Regions from separate parts of the Homo sapiens genome. Here region 2 is linked to region 1. A link means that fine-mapping ties the variant in region 1 to the expression of a gene that starts in the linked region. Tissue or cell type: whole blood. Region 1 holds a variant in brackets; the other region holds the start of a gene. All regions are shown on one strand. Distances are from middle to middle.

Evidence for each region. PIP is the estimated chance that this variant, and not a neighbour inherited with it, causes the effect.
Region 2: it holds the start of CLN8, and the variant in region 1 is fine-mapped to the expression of CLN8 in whole blood (INTERVAL, PIP 0.98).

What each region holds. Positions count from the first base shown.
Region 1 is chr8:1,732,822-1,740,999 of GRCh38, reverse strand. No RefSeq gene overlaps it. Among named protein-coding and RNA genes, the nearest start is that of CLN8, 27 kb to the left of the region's middle. The variant A/G (reference allele first, on the strand shown) is at 3,794.
Region 2 is chr8:1,759,209-1,767,386 of GRCh38, reverse strand. CLN8 (CLN8 transmembrane ER and ERGIC protein) reads right to left here and starts at 3,598. Exons shown (of 3, transcript NM_018941.4): 1 at 3,502-3,598. It overlaps CLN8-AS1 (CLN8 antisense RNA 1), which reads left to right and starts at 2,803. Exons shown (of 2, transcript NR_134303.1): 1 at 2,803-2,953; 2 at 4,459-5,424.

The DNA of each region.
Region 1 (8,178 bases):
CTTTGTGGACTGTTTATTTTCTGTCCTGCCCTTCCCACCTCACAAGAATGGGAAGCCCCATGGTGGGCTGGGACATCATCTGTCTTATTCACACGTGATGTTAAAAGAGATTGTTTTCTTCCTAACGGTGATGAAGTTACACTGCACAGAGGATCTTCAGGGCAGTGAAGCTACTCTGCATGGCACTGTCATGGTGGATAAGAGTCAGTGTACATCTGTGCAGACCCAGAGGATGAACAACACCTAGAGCGAGCCCTCGTGTAAACCACGGACTCCAGGCAATGAAGACGTGTCCATGTGGGTTCACCAATGGTAACAAATGCACCACACTTGCTGGTGGGGGGTGGCTATGCGTGCAGGGGAGAGGGGACAGGCAGCGAATGGCAGGTGTCTGTACCTTCTGTGCATTTTACTGTGAGCCAAAAACTGCTCTAAAAAAATTGTCTACTTTTAAGTTCTGATGGGTTCTCTGGCTTCAGGGAGTTGCCATTTTGGATCCTGAAGAATAAAGAGATAGGCTCATTTGCATGAGGTAGGCAGAGTCAAGTTGGAGGTTGAACTACGTGCTGGGACTGAGGCCATCAGACTCTGGAGGGAGGAGGGGAGCATAGCTGCTGTCTTGCTGACAGCTTCATGGGGAAGCTGGGGTCTGAGTTAGGATGAGTGTCTTAGTCCATTTGTTTTGCTATCAAGGACTACCTGAAGCTGAGTAATTTATAAAGAAAAGAGGTGTGTTTGGCTCACCTCTCTGCAGCCTTCACAGGGAGCATGGTGCCAGCATCTGCGACTGGTGAGGCCTCCGAAATATTAGAAATTGGCCGGGCGCAGTGGCTCATGCCTGTAATCCTAGCACTTTGGGAGGTTGAGGGGGGCGGATCACCTGAGGTCAGGAGATCGAGACCAGCCTTCCCAACATTGGTGAAACCCCGCCTCTATTAAAAATACAAAAATTAGCTGGGCGTAATGGCAGGCACATGTAATCCCAGCTACTCGGGAGGCTGAGGCAGGAGAATCGCTTGAACCCAGAAGGCAGAGGTTGCAGTGATCCAAGATCACACCACTGCACTCCAGCTTGGGTGACAGAACTAGACTCCGTCTCAAAAAAAAAAAAAAAATGTGAGAAATCATTCTGCTCGTGGCGTCATGGCGGAATGGGAAGCGGAGCAGGCATCACATGCCAAGAGGAAAAAAGCCATAAAGAGGGACAGAGAGAGAGGAAAGGAGCTGCCAGGCTCTTTTTAACAATCAGATCTCGCGAGAGCTAATGAAATGAGACAAATAGAGTGAGGATGGCACCAAGACATTTATGTAGGGGCCACACCAGTGACCAGACACCTCCCACCACAACAATGACCAGACACCTCCCACCACACCAGTGACCACACACCTCCCACCACACCAGTGACCACACACCTCCCACCACACCGGTGACCAGACACCTCCCACCACACCGGTGACCAGACACCTCCTACCACAATGACCAGACACCTCCCACCACACCAGTGACCCAGACACCTCCCATCACACCAGTGACCCAGACGCCTCCCACCACACCAGTGACCAGACACCTCCCACTAGGCCGGCACCAACACTGGCGATCCAATGTCAGCCTGAGGTTTTGGGGGTGTCAAACATCCAAACGATATCACTGGGGTATGTCTGGGGAGGCAGGATGATGGCAGAAGGCCTCGAGACAGGAAGACCTTGCCTTGGGTCCGAAGCCTGTGCACAACCATCAGGAAACTCATCTGTTTCTGCTGGAGTTTAACTTGACTTTGATTGGTTATTAAAAACCATCCTGTAATCCCAGCAGTTTGGGAGGCTGAGGTGGGCAGATCACAAGGTCAGGAGTTCGAGACCAGCCTGGCCAACATGGTGAAACCCGGTCTCTACTAAAAATAGAAAAAATAGCTGGGTGTGGTGGCGGGTGCCTGTAATCCCAGCTACTCGGGAGGCTGAGGCAGGAGAATTGCTTGAACTCAGGAGGTGGATGTTGCAGTGAGCTGAGATTGCACCACTGCACTCCAGCCTGGGTGACAGAGCAAGACTCCGTCTCAGAAAAAAAAAAAAAATCATTGGGCCGGGCATGGTGGCTCACTCCTGTAATCCCATCACTCTGGGAGGCCGAGGCAGGTGGATCACCTAAGGTCAGGAGTTCAAGACTGGCATGGCCAACACAGTGAAAACCTATCTCTACTAAAAATACAAAAATTAGCTGGGCATGGTGGTGGGCGCCTATAGTCCCAGCTCCTCAAGAGGCCGAGGTGGGAGAATCACTTGAACCCCAGAGGCAGAGGTTGCAGTGAGCCAACATCGCGCCACTGCACTCCAGCCCGGGTGACAGATTGAGACTCTGTCTCAAAAATAAATAAATAAATAAAATAAATAAATAAATAAAAATAATCATTGGTTCTCACCTCCTTTATGATTCTTTTGCCCCATTCTCTCTTCTCTTCTGGGGCTGTGTGTGCACAGAGGACCTGCTCCCCCGTCCTGAGCGCCCTGGTCTCTTGTGCCCCCTGCCCATTTCCCTCCTCCGTTCTCCACCTGTCCTGGCTGTGCAAATGCTTCGGAGGACTCGCCCACTTTTCCCGTCCCCTCCTTTGCTGCCTACAGTCCACGTTAGAGTTCTTATTTTCCGTATCACATTTCACATTTCTAAAACTTCTACTTGATTCTTTTATTATTATAATTTTCACTTTTCTGGTGAAATTCTCCATCGGCTCACTTCAGTACTTGGATGGAGTAACCCCATGTTTTTTAGAGGACGCATCTCATAACTCCAGCCCCTGAAATTCCCGCGATCTCTTCCTATTGCCTGTTTTTCTTGGCTGTCGGTAATTTCTTTCTTGTCTTATCTCTGTCAGGTAAGTTTTGGTTGAATGTTGCTGTTGCCTATTAAAGGTTGTAGAAATGATTTGAGGATCTGGATGTATTATCTTCAGGAAGCAATTTCTGTTACTCATGGCAGGCATGTGGGTGGGGACAAAAAATCTCACTCCAGTCAGGGTTTGTGCTGTTTGGGGGCTGAGTTTCAGGGGTTTTTCCTCCCCTAAACTTACTACTATATCAGATAGTGAATATGTTTCGTGTTTAGAATTCTAAATTAGAGGTTATTTCCTATTGCCCAGCTCAACCTGGGTAGAGAAATGTGAGCCCAAAGCTAAACATTCCAGCTTTCTCATCCCAGCATTCACAACCACAACAATGTTTGGCTGTCGGAGTCCCAGGTGAGAGGGGTGAGCCAGGCAGGCTTGGTTTTCAAGTAAAGGGGATTTTCATGGGGATAGGGCACTGGGGGCAGAGGAGGGAGTCTGTGGGGGTAGCAGGAGCTCTGGGAGACAGCAAGGCTCCCACAGGGGAGGAGGGGTCATTGTATTTGAGCCCAGCACAATTCCTTACAAGTGATTTTTTTTTTTCAAGAACAAGCCAATTGATATAGTTGGATGTGTGTCCCCTCCAAATCTCCTGTGGAAATGTGACGCCCGGTGTTGGAGGTGGGCCTGGTGGGAGGTGACTGTGTTGTGGGGGCGGATCCTTCCTGAATGGCTTGGTGCCTTCCTGCTGTCTCCAGTGAGTTCACTGGAAATCTGGCTGTTTAAAGAGCCTGGCGCCTCTTGGCCGGGCGCGGTGGCTCACGCCTGTAATCCCAGCACTTTGGGGGCCGAGGCGGGTGGATCACAAGGTCAGGAGATCAGGACCATCCTGGCTAACACGGTGAAACCCCGTCTCTACTAAAAAATACAGAAAATTAGCCGGGCGCGGTGGCGGGCGCCTGTAGTCCCAGCTACTC[A/G]GGAGGCTGAGGCAGGAGAATGGCGTGAACCCGGGAGGCGGAGCTTGCAGTGAGCTGAGATCGCGCCACTGCACTCCAGCCTGGGCGACACAGCCAGACTCTGTCTCAAAAAAAAAAGAGCCTGGCACCTCCTTCTCTCTCTTGCTCCCTCTCTTGCCACCTGACACACCTGCTCCCCCTTCACCTTCCGCCAGGAGAAAAATCTTCCTGAGGCCTCCCCAGAAGCAGATGCTGGAACAACCCGCAGAACCATGAGCCACATATACCTGTTTCTTCATATACTATCCAGCCTCAGGTGTTCCTTATAGCAACGCAAGACAGACGAATACACCAGCCACATTAAGGTGGGGAATGGTTCTTGCTAATCTATCTTGAGACCAAGCATGTGTTAGGGTTAAATAGGAAATAGGTGTTAAAGTTTTCTGATGTTGTGCACGACACCTAATGAAATTGGCTTTCTTCCTCCCCATCTCCCTCCCTTTCTCCCGTCCTTGTCTCTCTGTCTTTGTCTTTGTCTCTCTGTTGGTCTCTCTCTTTCCTTCCTCTCTTGGTTCCCTGGTGTGCAGAATGACTAAGAAGGGGAAACACACAAGTGCACTCAATACTTTTTTTTTTGAGACACGGTCTGGCTCTGTCGCCCAGGCTGCAGTGCGCTGGTGTGACCTTGGCTCACTGCAACCTCTACCTCCTGGGCTCAAGCCATCCTCCCACCTCAGCCTCCAGAGTAGCTGGGACTACAGACACATGCCACCACGTCTGGATAATTTTTGTCTTTTTTTTTGTAGAGATGGGTTTTCACCATTGTCTCGTCTGGTCTTGAACGCCTGAGCTCAAGCCATTCGCCTGCCTCGGCCTCTCAAAGTGCTGGGATTACAGGCATAAGCCACCATGCCTGGCCTCAAAAGAATTAAAACGGTTAATGAGTTAAAACAAGATTAAGTCTGTACATTATATAATGTAGAAGCTTCTGTGGAAAACTCCCCAGCCCTATGTGGACGACATCACATCTGATTTATCCTTGTGGTCTACACCGCTGGGTGCTCAGCCTTCTCCTGAGAGATGCTGTGAAACTTCTCTACCACCTGGAACAGGAGAAGGGAGGCCCATGTGGGGGCAGAGACCTCTGTCCAGAGTCCAGTGGCAGCTGGTAAGGATTTTTCATGCAAGGAATAGCTTAGAAGAGACAACAGTTATTGGCTGATTTTGATGAAGGATTAAAATTAAAATATCTCAGCCACTTCCTACTCAATGTATCCTATACATTTTCTTGTTAATCTAACATGCAGTTTACTTTCTGGGTGATAGCTCATTAGTTCAGAGGAGAATTGCTAGTTATGGGAGATACTACTTCCTGTTGAGTAGGGCAACTAGCTCTGCGATAGCTTTTATTGGACTGCTCATATTTTGAAATACAATGTTGTTTTACTAATCGTTGTTTATTCAACATCCTTGAACACTGGCTTTATGTGAGATAAACTTAAGAATCAGGGTTTAATCATAGTTTTCTTAGTTGTCAATTCCAATTCAAGCTGAGTCCAGGAAGAGGCTCCGCTGCTTCCAAATGCTAGCACACTGCCCTCTTGTGGGAGACCCTGAACACTGCAGAGCTTTACACTTCGAATCTCATCTAGTGAATCTAATTTCATTTCCCCGAAGCCAAACATATCCTTAGGCAGCAAATATAAAATATGTTTTACTTTACAAAGTCTGTTAGCCCTTCATAGCTCCTTCGTAATGCATAAATCTGTAAAACGTTTGCTTGGTGTCAATTACTTAATTCAAATAAGGAATTCCTGTACAATCTCTTCATGGTTATTATGGTGAAAGCTGGTTGGTGCTCTAGAACTGAATATGTGCAGAGAATTGTTAAACTCAAAAGCCAGTTTCCCATCTCACCTCTGGAAGCCTCAATTCGTCATGTTTCAAATGGAGATGGCCTGAGGGCATTTCATAGGGAAATGGCTGGATCGGTTTAGGAGCCCAAACGCTGCTAGAATTTTGTTTTTTCTGGAATGCCTTATGAAATCGCCTTCTTCTTTGATACAGTTAAAATAGGCTGTTATTAGAGCTAAACGTTTAAAATATTTCTACTTTTCCCTTTAAAAATTTTTTTTTAAATTTATTATTTTTTGAGATGGAGTCTTGCTCTGTCGCCCAGGCTGGAGTGCAGTGGTGCAGTCTTGGCTCACTGCAACCTCCGCCTCCCAGGTTCAAGCGATTCTCATGCCTCAGCCTCCTGAGAAGCTGGGATTACAGGCACCTGTCACCATACCTGGCTAATTTTTGTATTTCTAGTAGAGACAGGGTTTCACCATGTTGACCAGGCTGGTCTTGAACTCCTGACCTCAAGTGATCCACCCACCTTGGCCTCGCAAAGTGCTGGGATTACAGGCATGAGCCACTGCGCCCGGTCCCCTTTTCTTTTTTTAAAAAACAAATTACAGGTCACACGTCCTTAGTGAGCACACACAATCACTTTGCAAGGCTAGGCCTGGAGAATTCAGGGAGCTAGAGAAGGTCCAAGGTTCATTGGGAATTAGACTGTGGGTGTTAATTTAAGAAAGGACCTGCAAATCACAGGTGCTGTCCATAGTCCTGGAGTGAGGCAGGCACTCCTGTCTGGACTGGCCAGCCGGTGCACCAAGGCCTGACCTTCCTGCTCCCGGGCTCAGATCACAGCGGCAGCCCCACGACGACGCGGCAGCAGGTGCCAGCTGTAGGTGGAGGCAGGGAGGGTGGTTTGGAGCTGTGGGGTGGACTGGGGTTCGAAACAGAAAACGGCAGTGTCAAGATGGGGGTAAGAAAATGCCACCTGGACTTCTCAGTACAGGCATCTTATTATCTTTGTGGCTTCAGAACAGAATGTTACTGGATAGAGTTGTCCAGTTTCTTGGCGTGTTGAACGAAGAACTGAACAAAATGCACAAAGTAACAAAAGAACAAAACAACAGAAGAACAGAGGGAGTAACCAAGGCACAGATCTATTGAAGAAGCAAAAGCACAATTCACAAAGTGGGATGGGCTTGAGCAAGCGACTCAAGAGCCTCTCTAATTAGGTTTTTTGTTGTTGTTGTTTTGTTTTTTTGAGACAGGGTCTCACTCTGTTGCCCAGGCTGGAGTGCAGTGGTGCGATCTCAGCTCACTGCAACCTCTGCCTCCGGGGTTCAAGTGATTCTTGTGCCTCAGCCTCTTGAGTAGCTGGGATTACAGGCACCTGTCACCACGCCTGGCTTATTTCTGTATTTTTAGCAGAGATGGGGTTTCACCATGTTGGCCAGGCTGGTCTCGAACTCTTGGACTCAAGCGACCCACCCACCTTGTGCTGGGATTACAGGTGTGAGCCACCGCGCCTGGCCCAATTAGGATTTTTATAAAGCCAAAAGAACTTGGCAATACCCCTAGGTGCCCTTTAGCGGCCTCCAGTTGGTTATTCCCTATGAAGGATGGACCTGTGACCAATCAGATGCTGAAGTGGAGAAGGCCGTGGTCAATCAGAGGCTGAAGTGGAGGTTTCTGTCTTCTTATCACAGGAGAGAGGCTGTGGCCTGTGTACCGCCGGATCCTGCCTGGAACTGACTGCACCTGCTGTTATTTGCTAAAGCCCCAGCCCGGGGCTGCCCTAATTCCCTATTCTCCTCACGAAGCCCATAGCTGTTGGGAAAGACAGTCCCAGGGTCCTTCCCACGTGTAAGTGTCTTCCTCAGGCGTGTCCAGAGCACTGTGGCTGGATTGCTCTTTCCCGGACCATCTCTCAGGGCTGTGCGTGCAGGGAGCCATCCTCGAGGGAGGAGGAAATGTGTCCCCCGCGGACAAGGAGCAGGCATCGACTGTCTGCTATAGAACAGGGTCCCAGCGTCCGTGTGCCTCGGCCGGGACACAGAGCCAGCGTGCACCCGGCACCGAGCTGAGCTGTTCCACGCGGCCCTGTGGGATGTGGGGCCAAGGGAACCACAGACTCCTGCCCGTGCTGTCTTCTGCGCAGTGAGGAATAAAACCCTGGTCTCTGATCGACGCGTCTCCCGACTTCTAGCAGCGTCAATGAAATAGCAAAAGGCAACTTATTAGCTTGTAAGTAAAGTGAAAGAAAATCCGTGACCTTGTAGTTCAATGTAAGTTCAGGGCTGATAATTTAATTTTAAATTTTTTCCACATGGAAATTGCTTTAATGAGCTTTTACGTCCCCTGCTGATAAAACAATTAGAAAAGGGAAAAGAGTTTTACAGTGCTAACAGATACAATTTCACACCACTGAATTAGGTATTAGAAATGGTGAAGTAGACTCTCCGTATGTCCGTAGGGTCTGCAAAAGTAACGTAGCGTTAATTTAATGTTCGTAACGTAATTAATGTGCCTTGAAACAAAAAAACTCATTAACTTGAGAAGCC
Region 2 (8,178 bases), 26 kb before region 1:
CAGAAACAGGTAAGCCACAGCTGAGTGGGCAAACCCTCCTGGCAGTCAGAGAACAGGTGCCAATTAGGGATGCAGAAACAGCAGATTATAAAGACCAGAATGCTTACTTCCCCTTCCAGTCCTGTAGTGAATCCCCCATTCTGATTCTTTGCTCAAACCTCCTGACTTTCTGGGTAAGCTGGTGCTGTTCTAGTCTAACTCGTTACTGTGGGTCTCTGAGTTTAGTTAATGCCAACCAGCATCCTCCAGCCAGGAGTTCACAAAGGAGGTGAACTCCTCAGCTCTCTCAGCCATGAGGGTAGAAGGCCAGTCCCAGAGGCAGGATCCAGCCCAAGCGCCCAGTCTTCCTGGAGTCCTGCAGAGCTCTGCTGTCCTTTCGTGGCATCAGCGTTGTACTGAGAACAGCTGTGGTTCACCCCAAGTCACAAGGTGGGCACCCACAGAAGTGTGGCTAGGCCTTGTTCTGTCAGGCAGCACAGAAGGGGTATGGGAAGAGCTCAGCTTCTCCTTTTGCTTCTATTTCTGCTCCTTGACCCAACCACACCCTCTCACTCTTGATACGCAAAATGGGACACAGGGGTTCCCACTGTTCCCTTGCTGTGCACCATAAGGCTCAGGCCACATGAAGGAGTCCTTAAGTGTAATGCACAGCTGGAAGTCACTGTTCCTTCCATGGGTAAAACTGGAGGCCGAATCGGCCGGGCAGGGTGGCTCACACCTGTAATCCCAGCACTTTGGGAGCCCAAGGTGGGAGGATCACGAGGTCAGGAGATCGAGACCATCCTGGCTAACATGGTGAAACCTTGTCTCTACTAAAATACAAAAAAAAAATAGCCAGGCGTGATGGCGAGCGCCTGTAGTCCCAGCTACTCGGGAGGCTGAGGCAGGAGAATGGCGGGAACCTGGAAGGCGGAACGTGCAGTGAGCTGAGATAGCGCCACTGCACTCCAGCCTGGGTGACAGAGTGAGGCTCCGTCTCAAAAAAAAAAAAAAAAACAAAAAACTGGAGGCCGAACCTAATGGACTCATCTGGTTCTTTCATTCTGGAAGGCTTCCAAGCCCTTCCACACCAGCCCCTTTCCTCTCTGCAGTAGAGGAAGTGGAGCCGGAGAATAAACAACTCCTGGAAGGCCACCATCTCTTGACGCTGCAGATCTTCATTTTCTTTGGAGAAAATGTATACAAAAAGCTTGTCTTATAAGATTCTGTGGTTTCAGCTCTTCTATTGCACTGGGCCATGAAGTTTTTTAAAAATCTGAATGCAAACACATCAGTAAGAGTGTTAGCTCTGTTGCTGCAGTGTGACCAGGAACCAGGCTCAGTGGCCACTGGAACCCTTCGACTCTGTCATGCATCTATGCGCTCCTCCGGTTTATGGGGGCTAAACTGCTATGGATACCAGCATTTTTGTTTTTCATTGAGATAATTTATCCAAACTTGGAAGTGACGTCAAAAGGGAAAAAAAAGGTTGCATGCTTTTTTCCCTGCTAACGCAAGTTCAGTGTTTTACAACCCCAACAATCACTTGACTTTCTAGGAGAAATAACTAAACTATTTACCACTGATTGTGGGTCACGCATTTTACAATCTGCAAAGCTAATTCTCCTTTCCATCAAGAAGAAAAGACAATCCCAAAGGCTGTGGTTTCAATGCACACAGGATATTCACCAATCTTATTATCTAATCTGGCAATCTTCTCTCAGCATTCCTGTTACCCACTCACTAAGAAAATCCTAGTTTTGTGTATTCTCTTTTGAACTGACATTCCTATCCTGCTGTATACTGCATTAATGACTGAAATATAACCTGACAAGAGCTATTTACATGAGAATTATACTTCTAACATTTTGAAAATTATACATTGATGGGTTGTAAAAATGTTTTCCAAAATCAACAGAAATACATGTTTAATACACAAAATTCAGAAAATATAAACAAGCATAAAAATACAAAAATAAAAATTTACAATCCTCTTACACAGCTCCAAGCACCATCACTATTTTTTGGTGCCTGCTGGGTCAATTGTTTTTCTAGATATAAACTCTTCTTTTTACATAAAAGGGGATAACAGTATACAAGCTGCTCCCCGGCCTGCTTCTCTTCTCTCAGCAACAGCTAATCCTCCTCTGCAACACGGTTGCAGGGACTCCACCATTTACCTACCCGGTGTCCTACCAGGCTTTTGCCCAGTTCCTCGTTATCAGAAGACATTGTGTATTGAACATCTCTGAGGCCACCTAGAGAACCTGTGCTCTTTGTATGGAAACTGGATGCTCAGGAAGAACTTCCTTAACAACCACAGCCTCCATGACGGCCAATCTGAAAGTGAGGCACAGAAGTGTTCAAGCTCAGTGGGGAGCTGTGGCCATCTCATATTCCCTCAATCACTCACACTTCCTGCACCATTGCTCTTTCCTCTCACAACCTTCCTGAAAAGTTGTATGTAAATAAAAATCAAAATACGGGAGTGAGGTAAGCAGAAGCTGGATAGTTACAGATTTCACACAGAGGGTAAACTGAAACAGGAGTCAGAAGCAGCCGCCTCGCGCCAGTCTTTCAGAGAAGAGTCACTTACAGCAGAATCTACACAGGCTGGGGAGCCCCTGGCTCCCCTCCCTACTGTCCACACCCAACCCCAACCTAGAGCAGCTGGCTATAGGGCCCAGAGCCCAGGCGGGTCCCACCTCCTGCTGACCTGACCCAGCGCCCGCTCTCTCCCCCGCACACTTTGGTGACCTTACCCAGCGTCCCTCCCCGCTCCTACAGGTTCTGACTGACCCAGCGTCCCTCCGCCTCCCACACCATGTTGAGCTGCACCTTGTCCCCTTCCGCCCCAGCTAACTCGGTGACCAGTGGAGGCCACACCCACGTGACACCTGCTGTCCTTGACAGCAGCTCCGACGGCACCTCTGTGGCTCTGCAGGAGCCGCCTCCCCGCCTCGTGGGCACACAGGTGAGCTGACCGTACTTGCCCAGCCGGTCTGAGGGAAGCGAGGTCAGGGGCGACGGCGCCGCCTCCGCCTCCGCCTGTCCCCTCCCTCCGTCCGGCATCCGCGCCGCTCAAGGACTCCAAAGTCAGCGTCGCGGTGAGGAGCCCCCCACGCCCAACCCGCGCAGGCAGGACCCCGGGCTGCGGGGCTCGAAAGTCCCCCACAAGCTGCTGTCCGGGAACCGCACGGCCCGGGGTGCCGCACGCCCACCGGAAGGCAGGGCTGGGACCGCGGACGCCAGGAGCCACCCCGGCCCCTCACCCGGGCTCCCCCTCACGTGGGCTCCCGCGCGCCCATCTGGGTTCCCCCTCAGCTGAGTTCCCGGCCCCTCACCTGGGATCCCCGGTCCCCTCACCCGGGCTTCCCAGCCCCCTCGCCTGGGCTCCACGCGCGCTCACCTGGGCTGCCCCTCACCTGGGTTCCCGGCCCCTAACCCGGGCACCCCGCGCGCTCACCTGGGCTGCCCCTCACCTGGGTTCCCGGCCCTCACCCGGGCTCCCTGAGCGCTCACCTGGGCTGCCACTCAGCCGGGCTCCCTGCGCTTGGCGCCGCCCCGCCCCTGCAGGACTCCCGGCAGTCACTGACCTCATTGCCGCCCAGTCACGACTGGCCGGCCTCAAACACCGCCCGCGCACGCGCGTTCGCACGCGCGTGCGCACGCGTTCTGCCCCCCTGGGGGCGTCGCTACGAGAGGCCCCGCCTAGGCGCTACGACGGCGGCGGGCGCGGGAGGGGCGGGGCGGCGGGCGCGGGAGGGGCGCGGCGGGGGGCGGGGCGCGGCGCGGGGGGCGGGGCGCGGCGGGGGGCGGGGCGCGGCGGGGGGCGGGGCGCGGCGGGGGGCGGGGCGCGGCGGGGGGCGGGGCGCGGCGGGGGGCGGGGCGCGGCGGGGGGCGGGGCGCGGCGGGGGGCGGGGCGCGGCGGGGGGCGGGGCGCGGCGGGGGGCGGGGCGCGGCGGGGGGCGGGGCGCGGCGGGGGGCGGGGCGCGGCGGGGGGCGGGGCGCGGCGCGGCGGGCGCTGTGGGGCGGCGGGGTGGACGCGCTGAACCACGGCCGGCGGGAGGGGCGGGGCCGGGCTGAACCATGGCGGGCGGCGGCATGGGGGCGGTGGGGCTCCGCGGGCAGCCTGGTTGCGCTGCACCCGGACGGGGCCGAGGGGACCTGAAAGCTGCGGCAGAGCCTGACCGCGCCGTTCTCCAGAAGAGCCCCGGCCGCGGCTGAGTCGCGCTCCGGGTGTGGACGGAGCCGGAGCCTCCCCGGGGCTCGGTGAGGACACAGGGCCCAAGCCCCGGACCTTCAAGTCTTGACCGAGCGCATCCCCGGCCCTTCTGCGCCCACACCTGAGTTTTTGTCTGTAGGAGTTTCCGCAGTTTGCTAAGGTTGTTATTCGAGTTACTTATGTTTCTTCTCTCTAAGGTTGTTATTCGAGTTACTTATGTTTCTTCTGTCTAATGTGTTTTGTTCCCTCTTTAGAATCGACATCTAGAGGAGTACTCACCACTTAATTGATGATCAATACACGTTCCTTGAAAGAACCGATAGCATGCGATCGATACAGAGCATCTGCACTGGGATTGTCCGCCCCGCCTGTCAGGGAGGCCTCGGGGGCTAATGGAGCTGAGGGTATAGTCGGCCTTGGACCCTCGCTTTTTTCCTTTCCTGTACTATGAAGATAACTGCCTTATCTCCCCCTCAGGACTGTTTTGGGGATTAAATAGGACGTTTAAATTACCAACGCTCTTTGAAATAAACATTTCAAAATTATTATAACCCTTTAGTACATGTGGGAAAACGTTGACATTCATGTTCAAGTTTATTTTTCTGCTGGCTCATTTAGGTTTGTTGAAGCCTTGAGTCCCTAGGATTGTCTAAGAACATGGGTAAATGTGTGTGGAGGCCTCCCTGGAGGCCAGAGAACTGCCAGCAGCCTTCATGATGTTAGGGGAACAGGAACCTAGGAGAGCCAGGGTGACATCGTTTTAAAATCAACAACCCATCTTGGCGGGCGCGGTGGCTCAAGCCTGTAATCCCAGCAGTTTGGGAGAAAAAAATTAGCCGGGTGTGGTGGTGGGCACCTGTAATCTCAGCTACTCAGGAGGCTGAAGCAGAATTGCTTGAACCCAGGAGGCAGAGGTTGCAGTGAGCTGAGATCACGCCATGGCACTCTAGCCTGGGCAACAAGAATGAAACTCTGTCTCAAAAAAATAAAAATAAAATAAAATAAACTCCATCTTAAAACCAGTGAAACCACCATTGCAAAATTATAACTGAGACAGTGAGAGATCTGACCTAACCAACTCCATCCTACTTTTAACCTCCAAACTGTCCTTGTTCATTCCTGGGTGTAGGCCAAACTAACTTTGGAAGAAACTTAGTTTATGGTTTCCCGAAACAAATCCTTTTCTTGTCTGGAGACTAGACTGCCTTTGTAGGACTAACAAATTAGCCACAAGATTAGAAATTATGGTTTAGAATTCATGCAGCTGGAGATTACAAGATTCTGACCCTCCCTAAATTGCTCCTGGGGATAACATCACTATTGAAAAACCTAACAACAGTGCTTGAGATATTTTGCAGACCTTGCACTTGCTGAATTAGCTGGGACCATCCAGATGGATAAACTGGCTCATCTGATCTTGTGGCCCGCACTCAGCAACCGGCTCAGGCCAAGAGGACAGCTTTGATCCATACGATTTCATCTCTGATCTGACCCCTCAGTGCTCCCAGCTTACTGGCCCCCTACCTACCAAATTATCCTTAAAAACTCTGAACTCCAGGGCTGGGCACGGTGGCTCACACCTGTAATCCCAGGACTCTGGGAGGCCGAGGCAGGCGGATCACTTGAGGTCAGAAGTTCAAGACCAGCCTGGCCAACATGGCAAAACCCCGTCTCTACTAAAAATACAAAAATTAGCCAGGCGTGGTGGTGCACGCCTGTAATGCCAACTACTTGGGAGCCTGAGGCAGGAGAATTGCTTGAACCCTGAAGGCGGAGGTTGCAGTGTGCTGAAATCGCACCACTGCACTCCAGCCTGGGCAACAGAGCAAGACTCCATCTCAAAAACAACAGCAAAAACTCTGAACTCCGAATTCTTGGGGAAATTGATTTGAGTAATAATAAAACTCTGGTCTCCCGCACAGCCAGCTCTGTGTGGATTATTCTTTCTCTATGCAGTTCACCTGTTTGGATAAATCAGCTCTGTGTAGGCAACATGAACCTGATTGGCAGTTACAGTAGCCTGTAATCCCAGCTACGTGGGAGGCTGAGGCAGGAGAATTGCCTGAACCTGGGAGGCGGAGGTTGCAGTGAGCCGAGATCATGCCACTGCACTCCAGCCTGGGCAACAGAGCAAGACTCCATCTCAAAAAAAAAAAAAAAAAAAAAAAAAGATGGCTATAGTCATGCTTAGATGTAGTTACGCACTGAAATGCCAAGGATAACGTTATTTACATCCACCAAGTACTAGATCTTGTCACACTGCCAGCCCACCTGCACTTACACGTAGCTTGGCTTTTACATTGATACAAGATGCCTTTGAAACAAAGATGGCACATTCTTCTTCCTGCTTTCCGCGGGCTCCCCACTCTGTATCAGAGCAGCTGTCTCTCACTGCACTCTGCGACTGCCTTGAGTTCCTCCCTGCGCAAGATCCGAGAACTCTCTCTTAGGGTCTGGACTGGACCCCTTTCTCCATCAGCACTGGGTTCCTTAGATTCCTACTAACAGCATGCTGAGGCCTGTCTTAACAAAGAATGAAGTGAGGCTTAGAAAGATGGAACCATAACTTGCTCAGTCACGTGGCTAGTAAGCTCTTCAGCTTGAATTTAAACATTCCAGGACTGTGTCTTTCCACTCGGCCATCTTTAAAGCAGAGTGATAAAATAGTTTTGTTTTCTAAAAAACCATCACAGGCATAACTGATCACAGGTATAACCAGTATCCATGCGGGGTGTGGAACACTGAATGAAACCCGGGCGGATTCCCAGCTTGCTCCGTCTCAGCTTGGGCACTGCTGTTTACAGCCTGTGTACTCCCCTCCCGCCCTGCCACCCACAAGTGTCTCACCTCCTTCCTCGACAGATCGAATGACACAACAAACATTTATCTTGGGTGCACAGCGTGTCAGGCGTCAGGCTAAGCACTTTGATAAACTGGTTCTTTCAAACATCACAGGTGTCTGACGCAGGCACCATTATCCACGTCATAGAAAAAAAACAGTGTTCAGTGAGCCTGAGGTTAGCAATGTGTGCACCTCCACACACTGCTAAATGACAAAGCTGAATTTTGAAGTACGATGCCATGAGGTGTCTGGAGTAGACAACCAAAATGACTTAATTGAGGTGTCAGGGGACTGTCTTACTTTCTGGTCACACAAGCAATATACGCTCATTGTGAGGTTTGGTTGTTCCATTACAAAAAAGACTGTTTTAAAAGCCATTAGCGGAGGGATGGGAGGAGTTCTCTTCTGCCTGTTTCTTCCTCCTAAACAGCAAAATGACGGTGTCCTCAAAGGGATGTATAATGAGCGAGAGGCGAAAAAGAACGTCTGTGATTTTAAATCCAGTGTCCTTCACCAGTGAGCAATAGTAGTTCTGTGAGTGGGAGAGCAGGACCGCGGTGCTTGCAAACAACACTTTAAAACACTGGAACCCAAGTTCAGGATCTGCTGACAGCACATCTGCAGGAAGCATGAGGGTCTCTGGACTCCCGCAGATCAGCTGCTCAGCTTCTCAGCCTCAATGTGGCAAAGACTCTACCTGACCTAACTCCAGGCAGGGTCCTCGAAGCCCTCAAGGCTCTGACCTGGACCCCTGTCCCCTTTCGTCCAAAAGAATCCTGCTGGGTCAATGCAGTGACAGTTCCCCGCCCCTGATATCATACTCCTCATCCCTCACCCTCGGTATCTTATCACCTGGCCTGCCTGTGGCACGAATCCTACCAAGTGGTTCTAGCAAGAACCCCCCTGGCCTGATGTAGCCTCTTCATAGTTTTCCGTCCGTTCTCACCCTCTCCGTGGCTGTACATTCCCGTTTTTCTTCTTACACTCAGAGTTGAGCCTAGTCCCACTGCAGTGGCCCCTGCACCTATCGCGATTCCTTTGAGACTGTAAAACAAAAATAAAATTCTAGTCCCCCGCCAACCCCGTTAGCCACGAGCTTTCCAAAGTAAACCTTAGAGACTAGTTCAGACCG